Regions from separate parts of the Homo sapiens genome. Here region 1 is linked to region 2. Evidence: fine-mapped expression QTL. A gene starts in region 2. The other region holds a variant in brackets. All regions are shown on one strand. Distances are from middle to middle. Region 1 has its middle 11 kb from the start of ATP8B4. Region 2 holds the start of SLC27A2 (solute carrier family 27 member 2).

What was found. PIP is the estimated chance that this variant, and not a neighbour inherited with it, causes the effect. A credible set is the group of variants that fine-mapping cannot tell apart.
Region 1: its variant is the best candidate, but not a certain one, in a credible set for the expression of SLC27A2 in caudate (GTEx, PIP 0.50).

The regions. Positions count from the first base shown.
Region 1 is chr15:50,125,107-50,135,740 of GRCh38, forward strand. It overlaps a transcript of ATP8B4 not described here. Among named protein-coding and RNA genes, the nearest start is that of ATP8B4, 11 kb to the left of the region's middle. The variant C/T (reference allele first, on the strand shown) is at 5,441.
Region 2 is chr15:50,176,787-50,187,420 of GRCh38, forward strand. It overlaps SLC27A2 (solute carrier family 27 member 2), which reads left to right and starts at 5,410. Exons shown (of 10, transcript NM_003645.4): 1 at 5,410-6,119. The coding sequence starts at 5,642. It also overlaps a transcript of ATP8B4 not described here. RefSeq lists silencers at 5,302-5,641, 5,912-6,011.

The DNA.
Region 1 (10,634 bases), 52 kb before region 2:
TAGACTGACATCATAAGAAGTCCTTCCAACAATCAGGGCATTTACAAGAAAGGAGTAGTAGAACAATGAACCCGATCTGGATCAGTTTCAGGGCTACATGGTTCTTGTTATCTCAGAATCTCCAAGACCCAAGGAGCAGCCAGACACTTAGGGTCTTTTAACACTCACTCCAGCCCCATTTTCTCCTTAGCAAACTGTCATCCCAATGAGAAGAGACGCTCTGCTCTTCATCTCTTTACCCTTTTAGTCTGTCCTCCAGGTCACTGGGTGTGAAAATTTCCTACCCCTTATATGACACTTGGGAAGTGTAGGGTCCAAGATCAAAGGAGTTCAGGCTCTTAATCAGGACATGTCTCTGGGACATTTCACACATTCTTCACCATTTTCCAAGCCCCAATTCTGTATCAACCCCTCTGCAAGGCATTGGGGACCCCAAGGTAACTGAGACCTGGTCTCTGTGAGAACAGAAAAATAGCTCAGAGCAGTCTGCACTACGGGAGGTTCGAAAAATTTATCAGGCCCAAAAAGACAGGAGTCTAAGATTTCAGTCATGTGACCCCCAAACCCATCTGTGGGGGCAATTGTTTAAAGGCATTTTGTTCCTGACTACCTGCCTCACCTATTATCTTCATGTTCCTGGAATTTTAATACAAAGAAACAACATATAGCCAATCAATAACTTATGTTATTTTTAATGTAAATTCTTGGTAAACAACTTAGAAACTGCCTCTTCTTTTCTTTAAAAACCTGCTTGTAACTGCTGCTACAGCTTGTAACTGCAGAAAACTGAATCTATGCTCCCAGGTTGCAATCCTCAAGCTTGGCCCAAATAAACCCTCTAGTTATATCTATTTTGCCTGGGATTCTTTCTTTTAGGTCGATATCTGCCCTAACAAGAATCCTTCTAGTGGAAGAGAAAATAGTTGTGAACAAATTGTGACACAATGTGATAGTAACTCTAATTTAGGTGTCCCTTGTCCAAACAGGCTTCGGAACTACAGGAGAGGGGAAGCCATATTTCAGTGTGGGTGTGGAGGTGTCACGGGAAACCCTCAGAACAAGTGAAGCTGAGTCCTGAAAGATGAGTAGATGAGTTAGGGAGGGTCTTGTTAGTTCCTAACAAGCTAACAGTCCAAAAAAAAAAAAAAAACACTTCACTAATACTGTCAGAGGCGTCCAAGGCCTTTGAACCAGAGCAACTCCATCTTACATTCCCAGAAGATTAGTCATTCTTAGACACAGTTTCAGTTAAGGGAACAGGTTAATAATGTTTACTGAACAGACCCAGGAAATGTCCCGATGACCTGATATTGTTACTGGAAAGGGATCCCAATCCAGATCCCAAGAGAAGGTTCCTGGACCTTGTGCAAGAAAGATTTCCATTTGGTGGAGGTCCGAGTTTCTGAAAAGTAAACTCAGGGTCATATGTCAAGATGTTATCTTTAGCTTCTGTAGAGAACCAAACATCTTATGACTATAACTTCTTTAGCTATTATTTTAAGCTACTATTACTCTCTTACTTATCAAGTTGCTCATTTAATTCTCAGGACTAGCTAGGTGCCTGGAATTTCCATTGAAGAAACGCAAGATTTTCCTTTATTTCCATGCTTGGTGGAGGGTGGCAGGCAATCTGATAAGCAAGGAGGTAATAATAGCTTGAAACAATAGCCAAAGAAGTTAGAGTCCCAATAGAAACTAAAAATAACATCTTAACATATGTCCCTGAGCTGTTTTGCAGAAACCTGCCCACAGCCCCCACACCCCCCCGCCACCAAATGGAAAACACCATCCACTGGCACAACAGACCTTGGGGAAGGGGGAACTGGAGACTGAAATCTGACCACTGTTCTTCATTCTAAATTTCTTCCTGAGGGGCCTGGCAGAAGTTATACCTACAGGCCAGAGTTCAACATTCCTTTCTGCTGACCCCAAGTTTTTAAACAAATCTTAACCAATCGCAGATCGGGAAATCTTTGAATCTACCTGTAACCTGTGGACCCCCACTTCAAGATGTCTCCCCCTTTTTAGGTCAAACCAATAGCCTCCATGTATTGATTTATGGCTCTGCCTGGAACCTCTGCCTCCCTGCCTTTAAAAACTCTTACATGGAAGCCATCAAGGGGTTTGGGTTTTAAGATTAGCTGCCCAATTCTCCTTGCATAGCACCCTGCAATAAATGCTTCACTTTTCCTCACTGCAAATCAATCCCAGTGTTAGTATTTGGCTTTGCTGCATGGGCAGGCAGATTAACTGACCCATGTTCAGTTCAGTAACAATGGCCTTCCTCTACTGTGACTTGGGCTTCCATTCTAAATGGCTTGAGTGAGTCACAAACATACATCCCACAGCAATCGTGAATGTGGAGAGCAAAGGTGAGTTTGCCATCATCTCAGTATATCAGTCAATGTAATTTCTAGGTCCTAATGGATCAGAGACCAGGCAAAGATTAGGCAAGAATTGAGTCATGGAGGCCTCAAATGTTGCCTTATACACACTATCTCTGAGGATAGCAACCTAGACGCATTCTCTCTTAGATAAATAAACTGCTGCAGCTTGTGCTATAATACCGATTGCAAAGAAATTGATCCTACAGAACTAGAAGACTGCACTGGAGCAGGAGGTTAAAGCATCGGATGGCAGGAGGGAGATAAAACTGTTCAAGGCAGCTCTAGGACCATCCTGTCCTCTAGAGATATCCCATTATACATAGGGAGAGGAACAAACACCAGTAAGGTCTGTCTTTGAAGAAATATTAATTTCAGATGAACAATACCAAGGTGTGCCTCACTGTGGTTCTGCACACATCCCCACCAATGCTGAGCCATCTTTAGGTAGAGTGTGCCCCAGTCTCAAGGCCCAGGAGCTACAGCAGATGAGCAGATGATGGAGCTACTTCTTGTGCAACCCCATGTTTCTGTGCATTTCAGGGTAAGGAAGGTGCTACCTTCAGAGCTTCTCTTTTGAGTAAGCCAGTGTTTCGTTTTGTATCCAGTCTGTCAAGGAAAGAAGGAATTAATATCACCCCAGAAAAGCAGGAGGAACACTTATGGAGTTAAGTCATGCCAGAGACCAGCGAAAGAAGGGGAATCATGGAGACAGACACCAGAGTCCTGGGTTTTCCTAGCTTCAGAGCTAAACTTCAAGAGGGAGCTGGCTTTAGAAACATCCAGAGAGTTGGAGTCACATGGAAAATCTAGGCTAAGCACCCATTTCCTTTGGGTCTGAAGGGTGCCCTTCTCCATCAGAGCATCAGATCCAGCAAAGCTGGGAGCAGTATGGAACACTGGAGGAGAAAGGTGGCTGCAGATGCTTGAGGCTATGTTCCTGCCTCCTTGTGGCTGATGAAGGGCAAGGCCTGGGCCAAAATGACAAGATCTGCTTGTGCAAAGAGAATCCAGAGGACCTGGCATGGATCCAAGGCTCCCACTTCCCTCTACTGTCACAGAGTCACACAGGTTCTCTGTGATGCCATTCTGGAGAGAAGCAGGAGAGGAGAGGGACACCCAAAGGCCCTAAAAAAGACTAAATAATCAAAAGCTTATTTGAACTGGAAAAGACTGTGGTTGGTAAATTGATCAGTGGAAGGTTTATTGGGGATTATTTTTCCCTACTTACCCTTTGGAGTGTGTGAGTTAGTGAAAAAGGACAGATCCTTTGTAAAAAGTTAAGTAGGCTGGGCGCAGTGGCTCATGCCTATAATCCCAGCACTTTGGGAGGCCAAGGTGGGCGGAGTTCGAGAACTCACAAGGTCAGGAGTTCGAGACCAGACTGACCAACATGGTGAAACCCTGTCTCTACTAAAAATACAAAAATTAGCTGGGCCTGGTGGTGCGCACCTGTAATCTCAGCTACTCAGGAGGCTGAGGCAGAAGAATCACTTGAACCCGGGAGGTGGAGGTTGCAGTGAGCTGAGATCGCGTCATTGCACTCCAGCCTGGGTGACAGAGCGAGACTCCGTCTCAAAAAAATAAATAAATAAATAAAAGTTAAGTAGCCACATTTTTTAGGGCATATAGGTAATAGTGTGAGTAAATTGTGACCCCAGCTACCTCATGTCCATCACTAAATGCAATCTGTTTTTTTTTCTTGTTATCTTGAGGAGTCAAATTCATATCAAGAACGCTGTATTAGTTTCCTAGGGCTGGAATAGCAAAGTACCACAAGCTGGGTGGCTTAAAACAAGGGAAACTGATTCTCTCACAGTTCTAGAGGCTGGAAGACCAAAATCAAGGTGTTGGCAAAGCTGGTTTCTTATGGAGGTTCTGAGGGAGAATATGTTCCATGCCTCTCTTCAGCTTCTGGTACTTGCTGACAATCTTTGGCATTCTTTGGCTTGTAGACCCATCCCTCCACACTCTCCCTCTATCAACACATGGCATGCCCTTTGTGCGTCTTCTCTGTTTCTTCATGTCTTTATATGGCCCTCTTATCAGGACATGATTAGATTTGGGCTCCATTCTAATCAAATATGACCTCAATCTTAACATCTGCAAAGACTCCATTTCCAAGTAAGGCCACATTCCAACATTCCAGGTAGACATGAATTTTGGGCCACACTATTCAATGCAGCACAAATGCAAAAGGGGATTTTAATTAATGGCCAGTATTGAAATTATGTGGTAGACTAGGTCAAGAGATCGAGACCATCCTTGGCAACATGGTGAAACCCCGTCGCTACTAAAAATACAAAAATTAGTTGAGCATGGTGGCACGTGCCTGTAGTCCCAGCTACTTGGGAAGCTGAGGCAGGAGAATCGCTTGAACCCAGGAGGCGGAGGCTGCAGTGAGTCGAGATGGTGCCACTGCACTCCAGCCTGGTGACAGAGCAAGACTCTGACTCAAAAAAAAAAAAAAAAAAAAAAAGAAAGAAAAGAAAAGAAATTACATGGTAGAGTACTAGGGAGATTTTCATTTGCTATAAAGAGATCTAGAGGTCTCCACCACTTGGCCAGACTAGACTTCTTTGGTTCTCTACTCTATATGAATGTTGAGGCCTTTTCACAGCCTGCATAGATGCCCTTTCCCTGCCTTGTTTACCTGGCTAAATTTTCCACATCTTTCAGGTCTTAACTGCATTCTCACTTCCTCTAGGAACCCTCTTCAGAGAATTTTAAGAAATCAGAGCTTCTCTGGGCTCCCATGATATGCTGCCTTTCCCCATCATGGCACTTGCCTTGCTATAATCACACCTGTCCACTTGTCTGGGTCTCTAATACCTGAGGGTAGCAACTCAATTTCCCACTGGTAGCACTGGGCTTAGCACAGAATGTAAGAGCCCAGGACTCCTGTGATAAGATTACCCAGGCTCTGGTGAGTAACTGAGTATTCTTATATAAGTCACTCAACTTCTTGGGGTCTCAGTTTCTTCATCTAAAAAATAAGAGTCTTGGCTGGGTGCAGTGGCTTATGCCTGTAATCCCGGCAGTTTGGGAGGCTGAGG[C/T]GAGCGGATCACAAGGTCAGGAGATCGAGACCATCCTGGCTAACAAGGTGAAACCCCGTCTCTACTAAAAATATAAAAAATTAGCCAGGCGTGGTGGCAGGCGCCTGTAGTCCCAGCTACTCAGGAGGCTGAGGCAGGAGAATTGCTTGAACCCAGGAGGCAGAGGCTGCAGTGAGTCGAGATGGTGCCACTGCACTCCAGCCTGGTGACAGAGCAAGGCTCTGACTCAAAAAAAATTAAAAAAATAAAAATAAATAAGAGTCTTGGATTGCAATGTCTAAGCAACCCTCCTTAGTCTAACGTTCTATGTTAGTAATTGTATTAGTCCATTTTCATACTGATATAAAGAACTACCCAAGACTGGGTAATTTATAAACAAAAGAGGTGTAATTGACTCACAGTTTCAGCATGGCTGGGGAGTTCTCAGGAAACTTACAATCATGGCAGAAGGTGAAGGGAAAGCATGGCACCTTCTTCACAAGGCAGCAGGAAGGAGAAGTGCCTAGTGAAGGGGAAAGAGCCCCTTATAAAACCATCAGATCTCATGAGAATTCACTCACTATCACGAGAACAGCATGGGGGAAACTGCCCCCATGATTCAATTACCTCCACCTGATCTCTCCTTGACACATGGGGATTATGGGGATTATGAAGATTACAATTAAAAATGAGATTTGGATGGGGACACAAAACCTAACCACATCAATAATGATAGGTAAGAACTTCTAATAGCTATGCAGTACTTAATAGTTCTAAGTGCTTCATATATAGTAATTCATTTCATATTACAATAATTCTATCCTTTACAGATAAAGAATCAGAGAAACAGAGAGGTTAAAGAACTTTCACAAAGCTGCAGAGCTAGAAAATGGCAGAAGTGGAATTTGAACCTGACAGTCTGGTTCTAGAATCTATGTGCCTAACCAATCCACTATCTCTGCCTCTCTATAATGATTCTCCTTTTATTCGCTAGAGGAGCTGGTGTGAATGTTTCATCCCCAAGGAACCAGATATGTCTGATTCTTCATTTATATGCTAGAAATATAAGCTCTAGTTCATCACAATTAGGCAAAAAGGGGAGTAACATTTCAATATCTTATAATCAAATGTTTAACACTAATATATAAGCATTGATATACTTCAAACTCTTAGTAGTATCTTTGGAATAATACTAACAATATTTATATATTATTATATTCATATAATATTATATTATACTAATATTAACTGAAATATAAATATTTTAATACTAAAATACTAAAAATATTTATATTTCAATTAATATTATCATGTAATTAGAAATATTTTAAAAATAATGGTTATAAAATCACGCAGCTACTGCTCTTGCACCTGTTACTCAGCATTAGAAACAAAAATGTTTTGTTCTGGAAATTTAACCTGATTATATTTATATTAGTCCAAATTCTTATTAGATTTATTTTGTCCTTTCACTTATTTTTAAAGGTAATGCCAAAGGCCATTGTTTCTATGCCTGATTATAGTACTCACACACACACTATAATAGTCATTCAACAATTGGCCTGTGGTTTGGCACCCCCGAAACCAACTTGAAAATAAACAAGTTATTGGCAATATTTATTTAAGTACAGGCTGTATTACTATTAAATAATTAGTATTCTGTTTCATGACTTTCATAATAAAAAGTACAGGAACAGCCATCCTAAGCTTGCATTGGTAATATGAATATTAATTAGATATGGATTCTTTTATGGATCCATAAAAAAGTGGGTGAAGGACATGAACAGACGCTTCTCAAAAGAAGACACTTATGCAACCAACAAACATGAAAAAAGGCTCATCATCACTGGTCATTACAGAAATGCAATTCAAAACCACAATAAGACACCATCTCATGCCAGTTAGAATGGCGATCATTAAAAAGTCAGGAAACAACAGACCCTGCAGAGGATGTGGAGAAATAGGAACGCTTTTAAATTGTTGGTGGGAGTGTAAATTAGTTCAACCATTGTGAAAGACAGTGTGGCAATTCCTCAAGAATCTAGAAGCAGAATTACCATTTGACCCAGCAATCCCATTACTGGGTATATACTCAAAGGATTATAAATCATTCTACTATAAAGACACAGGCACAGATATGTTTACTGCAGCACTATTCACACTAGCAAAGACTTGGAACCAACCCAAATGCCCATCAGTGACAGACTGGATAAAGAAAATGTGGCACATGTACACCATGGAATACTATGCAGCCACAAAAAAGGATGAGTTCATGTCCTTTGCAGGGACATGGATGAAGCTGGAAGCCATCATTCTCAGCAAACTAACACAGGAACAGAAAAGCAAACACCACATGTTCTCATTCAAAAGTGGGAGTTGAACAATGAGAACACATGGACACAGGGAGGGGAACATCACACACCAGGGCCTGTTGAGGGGTGGTGGGCTAGGGGAGGGATAGCATTAGGAGAATACCTAATGTAGATGATGGGTTGATAGGTGCAGCAAACCACCAATGGCACATGTATACTCATGTAACAAACCTGCACATTCTGCACATGTATTCCAGAACTTAAAGTATAATTTTTAAAAAACTTGAAGTTTTGTACATACAATGGAATATTATTCAGCCATGAAAATGAAGAAAATCCTTCCATTTGTGACAACCTAGATCAGCCTGGAAGACATTATGCTAGGTGAAATAGACCAGAAACAGAAAGATAAATACTGTATAATTCTCACTTACATGTGAAATCTAAAAAAGTCAAACTCACTGGGCATAGTGGCCGACACCTATAATCCTAGCACTTTGGGAAGCAAAGGCAGGAGGATTGCTTGAGCCCAGGAGTTTGAGACCAGCCTGTGCAATATGGGGAAACTTCATCTCTACAAAAAAAAAATTACAAAAAACTAGCCAGGCGTGGTGGCATGTGCCTGTAGTCCCAGCTACTCAGGAGGCTGAGTAGCTACTCAGGTGAATCACCTGAGTCTGGGGAGGTGGAGGCTGCAGTGAGCCATGATCACGCCACTGCATTCCAGCCTGGGTGACAGAGTGAGACCCTGTATCAAAAATAAAAAACAAAAATAAATTAAAAATAAGAAAGTCAAACTCACAGAAGCAGAGAGCATAATAAGCAGTTGCCAGGGGCTGGGGTTAGAGAAATGGGGAGATGTTGGTCAAAATTTATGAACTTTCAGTCATAAGATGAATATGTTTTGGAGATCTAACATACAACATGATGATTATAGTTAATAATACTGCATTGTATACTTGGAATTTGCTAAGAGAGTAAATCTTAAGCATTCTCTCCACACACACAAAATAATGAGCCAGGTATGGTGGTTCATGCATGGAATCGCAACACTTTGGGAGGCCAAGGCAGGAGGATCGCTGAGGCCAGGAGCTTAAGACCAGCCTGGGCACCATAGCAAGACCCCACCTCTATAAAAAATAAAAATTTAAAATAAAAAAATGGTAACTGTGTGGTGATTGGATATGTTAATTAGCTTGATTATGGTAACTATTTCACAATGTATATGTATATCAAATCATCACATTGTATACCTTAAATATAGATAATTTTTATTCATAAATTATACCTCAGTAAAACTAAGGAAAAATAAATTAATATGTAAGAATGATAGACTGTCAGTGAGAGGGAAATGGAAAAAAAGAAAAATAGACTGTCAAAAGTAAAAATAAATAAAAATTAAAAGTTGGAGTTTAGCAGAAGAAATAAAACATAATGTAAAAATAACTATGGCAAGTAAACTATGCAATGATCAGCGCTCTTATAAAGGTGGAAAGAAAGTTGCAATGGGAAAGAAAGGCAAGTGAGAAGAGGGTCAAGATCAGAGCAGACTTTGGGGAAGAGAAAGCTCTTGAGCTAGTCCTTGAAAATTGGTGTGATTCCTGTATACAACAATAAGGAGTGAAAGCCATTCAAGTAGAAAGAACAGCAGGAACAAAGACAGAGAAGTCAGAAAACAGAGTATCTGCAAAGAACATCAAATACTGTACTTCAGTCTATCTGGCAAGTGGAGTGCATAGGAGATAACGGGAAATCAGGGGAAAAAACATATGTTAGGGTTAGATTATGACCCTTACAATTATCCTAGTACATGACAATAATAGCCTAAGGCAGTGTCAACAAGAATGGAGAACAAAGTATAGATTCAAGAAATATTCCAAATATAGAACTGACAACATTTGGCAACAGAAGGGGAAGGAAGAGGTAAAATGTCAAAGATGATGTCACATTCTTTGCCCTAATGGCTAGGGGAATGTTGGTGGCATTGACAAAAATAAGGAGAGTGAACGTGGAACAAATTCTGGTCCATCTGTTTGAGTTCTGCATACCAATGCTCAGCTAGCTCATCACAAAGCAGAAGTAGAGAACATTTCAAGCTCAACAGTCACTCTGTGACTCATCAGATGTGAGGGTGAAGTTATTTTTACTCTCACAGCAGTAAAACAAAACCTGAACATTGTTAAAAAGATTCTTCAGGTTTTCTGAATGTTCAAGTGGGTTGTCTAGAACAACAAGCCTTAACTTAGAGCCTCAAAATCTAATCTTAGAGGAAAATTTAAATGGTTTTATGTCCCCAGTCCTTTAGTCCTTAGCTGGTTGAAATCTAAAAGCTATCTTTTCTCCTTTTGAGATATGAGTGTGACACATCATTCATCTCTAAACTTTCTCAGTTTTCTCTTCATTAAATATTTAGTGTGACAAATTCAGCTTGTAGGTTGATAAGGAGGTACTCTACATTTCATTATCTGGATTTTCCCTCCAACAATATTCTGAATAGTTTTTCCATATTGCTCTCAATCTTTAACCACTCCACCATCACTTGACGGTGTCACACTTCAGAGAACCTTTCATTTTAACCCCATTTCCATGAATCATTATCATTGCGGCTTGCGGGAATTGCTTGAGCTATACCCAGAGCATCTGACCTGTCATATCTGCCCGAGATCACTTTATGTGACCTTTTATGTGCACATATGGCCACGCCCCTAGACATTCTGTAAATCTAAACTAAGTATGGGGAACAAACTCATTAAAAATCCAAGCACAAGAATTCCAAATGAGACTTTACCTGGTGGCACAATAAGCAAATGCTTTCCGCTAAACAAGGAATTGGAGTCTACTTTCTGGACATATTTTCACCAGTCATAATAACTGAAACCTGACATACATAAAACTGTAACTAA
Region 2 (10,634 bases):
CAAACATCTTTTTCTCAAATTATAAATTGTCCTGACTGTGTAGCAAGCACAACTGGGATGCCAATGCAAGGGTTTCCTGCTCTGTCATGTCTAATATCAATAATCAGTTGTTCTCAGTCTCACCTTTTTTTCATTCTCCAAAAAGAGGGTCAATCTTATCACATACCACCTCCATCAAACCCTTGCCATTTTGTTGGCTGAATACCTGCACATCCTGTATGCCTATACTCAAATGGTACCATGCTAGACAGTCAATAGGATGACAGGCACCCACATTTCAAGAAATGTGATTAACTTATGGCAACAACAGTCAGAGATTATTCTTCCCACAAACCACTGAATGAGTCAGTCACACAAAATTTCTATTTGTACCAAGTATGTAATGTCACAAAAATTGCAAGCTTCATAATCTATACTTTTTTGTCAAGAATGGCCCTGTGCATTAGGTGCCTCAAATTCTACAAAATTAACACAAGTCACTGTGAGAGCTCAGTACACTTCTCAAAGCTACTCAGCCAATGCATGACAGATAAAGACTCAAAATCAGGTCTTCTGGCTTCAAGTCTCACAATCTTTTCTATTACTTCATTCCAGGAAATTGAATTCTAGTTACGAAGGCAAAACTAACAGGTAAGAAACAATCAAAAGCCCACCTATGCGATGGGTTTATAAGTTCAGTACAAGGGCTGGATCAGCATGGGCTGGAAGATTTAAAGGAAAATGTTTGGGAATACTTTTTTTCACATGAACTCTACATGGAAGTGTAAAACAAGTATATGAGCTGTTTTGATTGGAGCTAGGGTAGGATCCTCCCAGAGCCCCTTTCCCACTCTATGCAATGAACTCTCCTCAGTAACTTCTCAGCCACTAGGGCTCTACCGAGTAGTTTGGAAGCCAATGGACTAAATCAGTAGTTCTCAAAGTATAGTCCCTGGACTAGCAGTGTCAGCAATACCTGGTAACTTCTTAGAGATGTGAATTCTTTGAATCAGAAATTTTGGAGATGGGGCTTAATAAACTATATTTTAGCATGTTCCCCAGGTGATTCTCAGACTTGTAAAGTTTGAGAAATAGTGAACTACTTCATCTCCATAAAGTAGGAAGGGACGCCACCTGCTTTAAAAGAACATTTGAGATTGGGATTGGAAACTTTGAAGGGGGTAGGGAAGGTCTGGGACTGCCAATAGGAAGCCTTCTCTCAAATAGCAGAGATAGATGATAGGGATGAACGTCCTGACCAAGGCTAGAAGGTGTCAGTATGCACACCCAGTAATCCTGTCTTGCCCCTAAACTTCTCCTGCAATACCTAGAATAGGACAGAAGACAGTGGGCATTTGAGGTCATCTATACCTGGATAGAAAGTTTAAGGAAAAGAGGGGTCTAGGAGGCCACGTTGAAGTGACTGGCCAGGAAGGGACCGAAATCTTGATAGAGGAAATGAATAGGCTCAGTAATGTCAGAGAATGGGAGAAGTGGAATGAGGAGGCTTAACTAAGCCTATGGGGACGGAGAATCTCCATGTCTGAGATCTCAGTGCTGACAAAATCCTAAATTACATCAAAGTCCAAGATCTGGCTCTATTTCATATTTCCCTGTGGAATTTATGTTACTGAATAGACAAACTTGTATAAAAACAATTTCTATATGGTATAAAAACCCAGACAAAAGTTGCAGTTTTCTACATTCAAAAATATTTTTAATGTTTTTATTTTTATCTGTTTGTGAGAATTTGTAAGATTATTTTGTTTTGTTTTTCATATGAGATGGGGTCTCACTGTGTTGCCCAGTCCAGTCTTGAACTCCTGGCCTCAAGTGATCCTCCTGCCTCAGTCTCCCGAGTAGCTGGAATTACAGGTGCATGCCCCCACACTTGGATAATTTCTGTACTTTTTATGTGTTGGTGTAACATTGTCTTCGTCTTTTCTTGGAAAGGGCTATATGTTTATTGTTACTGTCTTTAAAATTGTGGTAAAATATGCATAACATAAAAATTAACTATTTTAACCATTTTTAAGTGTACAGTTCAGGTATACTTTTTTAGTGCCAAAAATGTCATTCTTCTATAAAATAACAAATATACTGTGATGGGGGAGGGGGTTGTTCTTACTAGAAAAATTAAGAAGTCGTTACTTATTTTGAGTCCCTAACTTGGTTTCGAAATATAACACGGGACTAAGAAATTCAGGAATCAAACAACTACTGCCCTAAAGGAGAGTTGAGATTTACAGGGTTAGGATGGTCAGGGGTGGAAAGTGGTAAGAACAAGCCAGTAGAAAGAGGAAGGTGCAGGGCATTTTTAGGAGTGTGCAGACCAGACTTGCTAAAAACAAAGTGCGCTTGAAAAGGAACAGTTAGAATTAAGTTTTGGTCCATTTTAAAATATTTAATACCTAATAATGTTTGGTTCATAGCAGAAACTCAATAAATATTTGTCAATTGAGTGTAGTGAAAGCTTGAGTGAGATTCAGAAGAGCCAGAAAATAAAGTTTAAATTTCATTTTATAGACCAGAGGTTCCCAAGAGATGTACCAAGAATGGGCAGCCAACGTGCTAAGCTATCGATCACCTTTCAAAGGAGTCAGGCAGAAGCCAGGGCATCTGGTCAACTCTAGGCCAGGTATGTTCTAGTATGCTGTACAAGTACAACTGTCTATAGATGTCATTGGTGGAAGACAATAGGAAGCAATGGGGAACCACTAAAGATAATTGAGCAGTGGAGATATAAGATGGCAGCAATATTTCCAGGAAGACTATTGCTGTGGTTTTAATGTTCATGTCCCCTACAAAATTCATATATTGAAATCCTAACCCTCAATGTGATGGTATTAGGAGGTAGAGCCTTTGGGGAGTAATTTGATCATAGGGCAGAGCCCTCATGAATGGGATTAGTGCCCTCATAAAACAGGCCCCAGAGAGGTAATTTGTCCCTTCTACCAAACAGTACACAGTGAGAAGGCACCATCTGTGAGAAAGTAGCCCTTCACCAAACACCACATCTGCTGGCACCTTGATCTTAGACTTGCCTCCAGAAGTCTGAGAAATAAATTTCTGTTGTTTATAAACTACCCAGCTTACAGTATTTTGTTATAGCAGCCCAAACAGACTAAGACATCTATTAACCTCGTGATAAAGCAAGAGCTGGATCCCAGGCTCAAAGCTGGAATCACTGGGACTCCCAAGGTATATATTATAGACATTTGAAAATTACTTCCCCAAATTTACTCTCCCTAACCCCACTTTTTAATAATACCGTAAAACGTTCCACAAAATGGCCTAGGTGAAATTGATTATACTCTCACCCCCATGGGTGAGCGCTGATTGGCTTAAAACAACTAGCACCTTTTTCCCCAGGACCCACAGACATTGGTTCAGAAATGGGCGCATAATCCAGTCAGGGATTTTTTTTTTTATGAGAACTCCTAAGAAAAAGATTCCTGTACTTCTCTCTGAAGTTGAGCCAGAAAGCATGTACCCCTAAGGGCTGTTGGCAGCCATCTTTGGACAAAAACCAGAGAGCCTGAATGAGAACAGAGGAGGTGCAGAGGAGAAATAGTGAAAGCAAAACTAGATCCAGGTGTCAGCATTTAAAATCCTTGATGTCTTAGCCCCGGACTCTCCAGTTACTACTTAAATTCCTGTTTCTGCTTCAGCTAGCTTGGGTCTTGTTTTCTTTTACTTGTAACTGAGGTTAAAGTGATCCTCAGAATAAGAGGGGAAAAAGTGGACCCTTGTGGTAATCTAGCACTCTGGGTAGACAGTAGCTGTTCAAGGAAAAGAGAAGAGGGGTGCAGGTGGCTACACAGAAGCGATTAGCCATCAAGGGACGAGGGTGGCATTGGGATGAAAAAGGAAGGGCTGGCTCTGAGCTTCACCATGAAAGAAGTGCACATGAGAATGGTTTCTGTCGGGCCCTCACTTTGGTTAATTCTACTGCTTTCTCCTCAGGGATGATGAAGGCCCCCAGCTCATCCCCAGGGAAATGATGCAACCAGGTAGCTGGATCAGAAATGAAAAAGTCAGGAAAAGGGAAAGGTTGCTTGCGCAGTTACTAGGGATACGAAAAGGAGGCTAAAAAACGGCAGGGGGTGGCCTGGAGGGAATGTGAAACATTTTTGTGTGTTTTACACACACCGAAAAAAAAAGAGGACATGGACAGAAACCTAGAGAATAGGAGGACAGCATAGTATAGTTACTAAGAATAAGCTAAGAGTTGGTTCCCCGGGACCAAACAGATACCATTTCCAAAACCCACGAATTACTTACCGGCTGTCTCAATTCACCTAAGCTTCCCTTTCTTGTCTGTAAATGAGCATGAAAGTGCCACCTGTATAAAATAACTCAGGCTCCCAAAATGTAACATAGGGAAGCTCCTAGCAGCGTGTCTGGGAGGAATAAGCATTATCTGTATTTATCGTATCAAATTAAGATAGAGGAACACAGGAGGACAGTAGAGGATGAAAATAAAACACTACTTAGATCCTGACCCTCCTCAGTGGCAAGTAGTGAGCATTCACTTCGTACAGAAGTAGCACTAAGGCAAATTAAAAGAAAGGTTCACATTTCCTCTAAAAGAAATGGTTTTTGAGTCATGCCAATACCACTTACTCAATGTCCTCTGTACTATACTATTCTCTGACAGAGCCACTTATTAAATGTGTGAACTGTGCTGACAACACTTGACAACTTTCAACATGAGGGAACAGCAGGATCACTTAACAGAACAAAATCGTAAAATAATGTCAAAGCTTGATTTCAGGTGGTGCGGTGTAGCACTGCTCTTCACGAAATCAGGACTCCCCCGACCAGGCAGGGCCGACTAGGTTAGAGTGTCCTGCCCTCACTCACCTGGCAGGGCTTGGGATGAGCTGGACGTGACTGCCACAGGCATTTCTGTTCAACCTTGAAGCCTTCGCTACAGGAGACCGCCTGGCAGTCGGGCTGGGAAGCAAATCTGAGAAACAAAGAGAGACCAGGCGGAAAGCCCTTGGGACCAGGAAGGAGAGATGAGATTCTGGTTTGGCAGTGGCACCTGGTACCCGCTATTAATAAATAATAGGACTGTCTGACATTTATAAGGCACTTTATCGGTAATAACAGTGTCATCTCCATAAGCCATTCTATTAGTGGTAACAAATAATAGCCCCACGCCTGCAATATCTCCTTTAATATTCCCAACGTCCGCTAAGCGCGTCTCATCACCATTTAAAGAAACCGTGGCTCCTAGAGGTAAAGTACTTCGGTCACAACGCGAGGAGGTCCAGACTTGACCCCAGACCTCCAGACTCGAGCTGGGAAGTGGCCGAGGCTCCTGGTGAGCCGCAGGGCAGCCTGCCCAGCCCCGGGAGGACCGCGTGGGAGGGCCGGGAGAGCAGGTGGCTGCCCCCCACAAGGGGGCGGGCTCAGCCGGCCAGTCCTGCCCGGAACCCCCGGCAACGCGCATACGACTACACCTGCTCCGGAGCCCGCGGCGGTACCTGCAGCGGAGGAGCTCTGTCTTCCCCTTCATCTCACGCGAGCCCGGCGTCCCGCCGCGTGCGCCCCGGCGCAGCCCGCCAGTCCGCCCGGAGCCCGCCCAGTCGCCGCGCTGCACGCCCGGGGTGAACCCTCTGCCCTCGCTGGGACAGAGGGCCCCGCAGCCGTCATGCTTTCCGCCATCTACACAGTCCTGGCGGGACTGCTGTTCCTGCCGCTCCTGGTGAACCTCTGCTGCCCATACTTCTTCCAGGACATAGGCTACTTCTTGAAGGTGGCCGCCGTGGGCCGGAGGGTGCGCAGCTACGGGAAGCGGCGGCCGGCGCGCACCATCCTGCGGGCGTTCCTGGAGAAAGCGCGCCAGACGCCACACAAGCCTTTTCTGCTCTTCCGCGACGAGACTCTCACCTACGCGCAGGTGGACCGGCGCAGCAATCAAGTGGCCCGGGCGCTGCACGACCACCTCGGCCTGCGCCAGGGAGACTGCGTGGCGCTCCTTATGGGTAACGAGCCGGCCTACGTGTGGCTGTGGCTGGGGCTGGTGAAGCTGGGCTGTGCCATGGCGTGCCTCAATTACAACATCCGCGCGAAGTCCCTGCTGCACTGCTTCCAGTGCTGCGGGGCGAAGGTGCTGCTGGTGTCGCCAGGTGAGCCCCGAGGATCGCCCTGCCCTGGCACCAGGGCTTCTCGGCGCCTTGACTGACGAGCCACAGCGTGGCATAAGGGGTTCGCAGAGGGAGGTTCAGATCGGAACTGTAGGTATAGAAAAAGGTTGGCAGTGTTTCCTTGAATCGCAAATAATGATCTTTTAGGACCACCTGTTGTGGAAGCTGATAATGTGCTAGGTTCTGTGTTAAGCACTCTACAGGCAGTGTGGTTTTTAATCCTCACAATGGGTAGGCTTTGTTATAGGACTTTTATAGATGAGACCACTGAGGTCCTGAGAGGTGAAGCCTCATGCCCAGCCATCTATCTCCAAATTCCAAGCTCTTAATCAATACTTATAACATCTGCATTAAAATGCAGAGGATCTTGAGTGCGAACTCTAGTGGATCCAGAGGGGCTCTTCTCACCTCTGCTGCTTGACTGGCTGTGTGATCATGGGAAAGTCACTTCTCCTCTCTGTCCCTTGGTTTGCTCCTCTCTAATGAGGCAGGCTTCAATGTTGCTTCCAGCTCTCAACTGCTGTTAGCATCCTGTCCCCTCCCTGCAGAACAAAGGTGACCCCACCTGATCCCCAGGGAGAAGATACTGGGGATCTGCTACAGGACCGTTGTGAGCCCCCACTGCATCTATCACAATAGTGACCCTTTCAGTTCTGTGGTTAGCTCCTGCCACATTTCAGCCAGACTTGAAACAGTAACTTAAGTGATGACAAGGTCAGGAAGTGACAGAGAACCTGTTACTCACAGGGCTGATGGCTTTCCCCTCCCAGAGAGCTTGTCTCTGCACTTGAATAAGGACCAAGGGTTCCTTCTCTCAGTCAGTAAGAAGAGGCCTACACAGGAGTGGGCTGAAAGACCTGGGTGACAGGGTAGGGGTCGAGGGAGCCGAGGAGCCTCAGCTTTCTAGAATGCATTTCTGTGCTAAGCCCTATAGTAGATGCTTTTATTACCCCGGGAGATAACATATCACTATCCCCACCACCACCACCACCATTATACAGTTGAGAAAACTGAGGCTTAAAATTCCAACCTAGCTCTATCCAACTTCGAAGCCATGCTCTTTCCTACATCTTTTTTTTTTTTTTTTTTGACAGTCTCGTTCTGTTGCCCAGGCTGGAGTGCAGTGGCGCTATTTCAGTTCACTGTAACCTCTGCCTCCCAGGCTCAAGCGATCCTCCCAGCTCAGCCTCTCAAGTAGCTGGGACCACAGGCATGCACCACCATGCCCAGCTAATTTTTTGTTATTTTTGGTAGAAACAGGGTTTCACCATGTTGCCCAGGCTGGTCTCAAACTCCTGAGATCAAGCGATCCACCCACCTTGGCCTCGCAAAGTGCTGGGATTACAGGTGTGAGCCACCACACCCAGCCTCTTTCCTACATCTTATTGTTTTCCTCTGCATGGATGTAAACTGTTAAGTGTGCTGGAAGGGATGAAGTGTCCACTTGCTCTACCCCTTCATTTCATAGCTGGGGAAACTGAGGCAAGCTAAGCGGGTTACAGAAAGATGAAAGGTTAATTCACTTGTGAGAAACCAGGAATCTTACACACCTGCTTCATGTGGCATGAAATAAATAATCCAAAAAATATAGGCTTTGTATAAAAGTTTAAAAGCAGAAAGCCAAATTTTAGGCTGGGCGCAGTGGCTCAAGCCTGTAATCCCAGCACTTTGGGAGGCCGAGGCAGGTGGATCACTTGAGGTTAGGAGTTCAAGACTAGCCTGGCCAACATAGCAAAAACCCCGTCTCGACTAAAAAAAAAAAAATTAGCTGGGCATGGTGGCGCGTGCCTGTAATCCCAACTACCTGGGAGGCTGAGGCAGGAGAATCACCTGAACCCAGGAGGCAGAGGTTTCAGTGAGCCGAGATCATGCCACTGCACTCCAGCCTGGGGGACAGAGTGAGACTCCATCTCAAAAAACAGAATAAAAAAAAGACAAGTTTAAAGGTGGCTAAATTATTTGGAAGAGATGGTCCTTTCAAGAAAATTCCCATTAATTTCTAGCTGCCTGAGAAAAGCGATAACTTCACTACTTTGTAACTAGAAGACTCTCCTAAGCCTATTACTTTACCAGCTTGCTTGGAGGGAAATTATTAACACAGTGATCTTTGTACCACTTCAGGAAGCATTTAAATTCTGTTTATCACTTTAGTATCCCAGGTCCCCTGAGAGGGAGGTCACAGGGTTTGGAGTTTTGTTGACAAAGAAGTTCAGGATTAAATGACCATAATACAGTTTGATTCTGCAATAAAGTCAGAATTACAACCAGATACCCTCTTCCCACCCAGCTAACAGTTGTCTGCCATAGAGCTATGTGTTTACATAGAGAATATATGGGAATTTCTATATTAAACTCAAACGTGAACCAGACTTTACAGTGGACCTAAGGCACTCTCTGGACCGTCAACTGACCTCTGAGGGAGGCCACATATTTGAAAAAAAATCAGTTTTTCCAAATCACTGAGATACCTTTGCACATGAAGCAAAATTACAGTCTGTCACAGAGTTGCATGTTTACTAAACATGCCCATGGGAAAATATGTTGAATGGACTGATTCTTAGAATTCTTTGGTGTTGGAAGGGACCTTAGAGATATTCTAACCCTATAATCCTGTAAGTTTAATGAATGTGTTATACTTTAAAAAAAAAAGTTTACAGAAGAAACTTTAATAAGCCCAAGAATCACCTAGGAAGCTTACTTTTTTTTTTTTTTTTTTTTTTTTTTGAGACGGAATCTCGCTCTTTCGCCCAGGCCAGGCTGCTGTGGCGTGATCTCGGCTCACTGCAAGCTCCACCTCCCTGGTTCACGCCATTCTCCTGCCTCAGCTTCCTGAATAGCTGGGACTACAGGCACCCGCCACCACGCCCGGATAATTTTTTGTATTTTTAGTAGGGGCAGGGTTTCACCGTGTTAGCCAGGATGGTCTTGATCTCCTGACCTCGTGATCTGCCGGCCTTGGCCTCCCAAAGTGCTGGGATTACAGGCGTGAGCCACCACGCCTGGCCGGAAGCTTACTTTTAAAAACATTCTGAGGCTGGACACTATGGCTCACTCCTGTAATCCTAGCACTTTGGGAAGTGGAGGAGGGAGGATCACTTGAGCCCAGAAGTTCGAGACTAGCCTGGGCAACATGATGAAACCCCATCTCTACAAAAAAAAAAAATACAAAAATTAACTGGGCATGATGGTGAGCACCTGTGGTCCCAGTTACTGGGGAGGCTGAGGTGAAAGGATTGCTTGAGCCCGGGAGGTTGAGGCTGCACTGAGCTCTGACTGTGCCACTACACTCCGGCCTGGGTGATAGAGTGAGACCCTGTCTCAAAACAAAAAAATAAAATTTCTGAGATCATCCCCAAAAATGCTGATTCAGTAAGACTATGTTGGGGCCCAGGAATGTGTATTTTTATAAGAAACCCCACCGCCAACCCTAGGTGATTTTGAAACAAATGGTCTGAGGACTAGGCTTTGAGAAACAGTCTAGTTTCCCATTGTTTTTCATTGTTGTTTGTTTGTTTGTTTGTTTGTTTGTTTTTGAGACAGTCTCGCTCTGTTGCCCAGGCTGGAGGTGCCGTGGCGCGATCTCGACTCACGGCAACCTCCGCCTCCCAGGTTCAAGCCATTCTCCTACCTCAGCCCCTCAAGTAGCTGGGACTACAGATGCCCACCACCATGCCCAGCTAATTTTTGTTATTATCAGTAGAGATGGGGTTTCACCATGTTGGCCAGGATGATCTCCATCTCTTGACCTCGTGATCCACCTGCCTCGTCCTCCCAAAGTGCTGGGATTAGAGGCGTGAGCCACTGCTACTGGCCTTCTCATTGTCTTATAGCTGTATAAACAAAGGCCTAGAGGGATGATATGAATTGCCCATGATCAAGTGGATAGTTAGGAACAGAAAGGTAGAGATAGAACCCAAATATTTTTTTCTCACTTACGAGGCACTGTTTATTCTATCACACCATCTTGAACATGATACATAAATGTCAGTTTGATTCCATATTTTGAGTTTCAGCCCAGGGCTTGTGGACTAGTAAGAGCTCTTGAGCTCCATCTGTCAGTCAAATTCTGCAGTATATGTAAAGGACCAGCACAGAGGCATTTATCATGAGGATTGATCCAGTTGTTATGAATTTGGGGGTTTCTTTATAACACTTAACAGGACTCAACCCTATCAGGAATTTCAGTACTCAATTACTCTTTTCAATTTTACTATAGTTACAGAAAGTCAAGACTCATAAACACTTCCCTGAATCAAGCAGCAGCACTGTTTCCCAGAGAATATGACTTTCTCTCTGTTGTACATTTCAGGATCGTTCTCCAGGGCAGGGTATGATCTAGGTAATCACATGGGAAAATTGTCTCCAAGGATAAGAACCTGTATCAATGTTGTAACTAATAAAAGCCACATGGCTGGGCCAGTAGTTTTTCACCCAACTTTCCAAATACAGAATATGGGTAAAACAGTAAAACATATTTTATTTCACACAATATGGGAT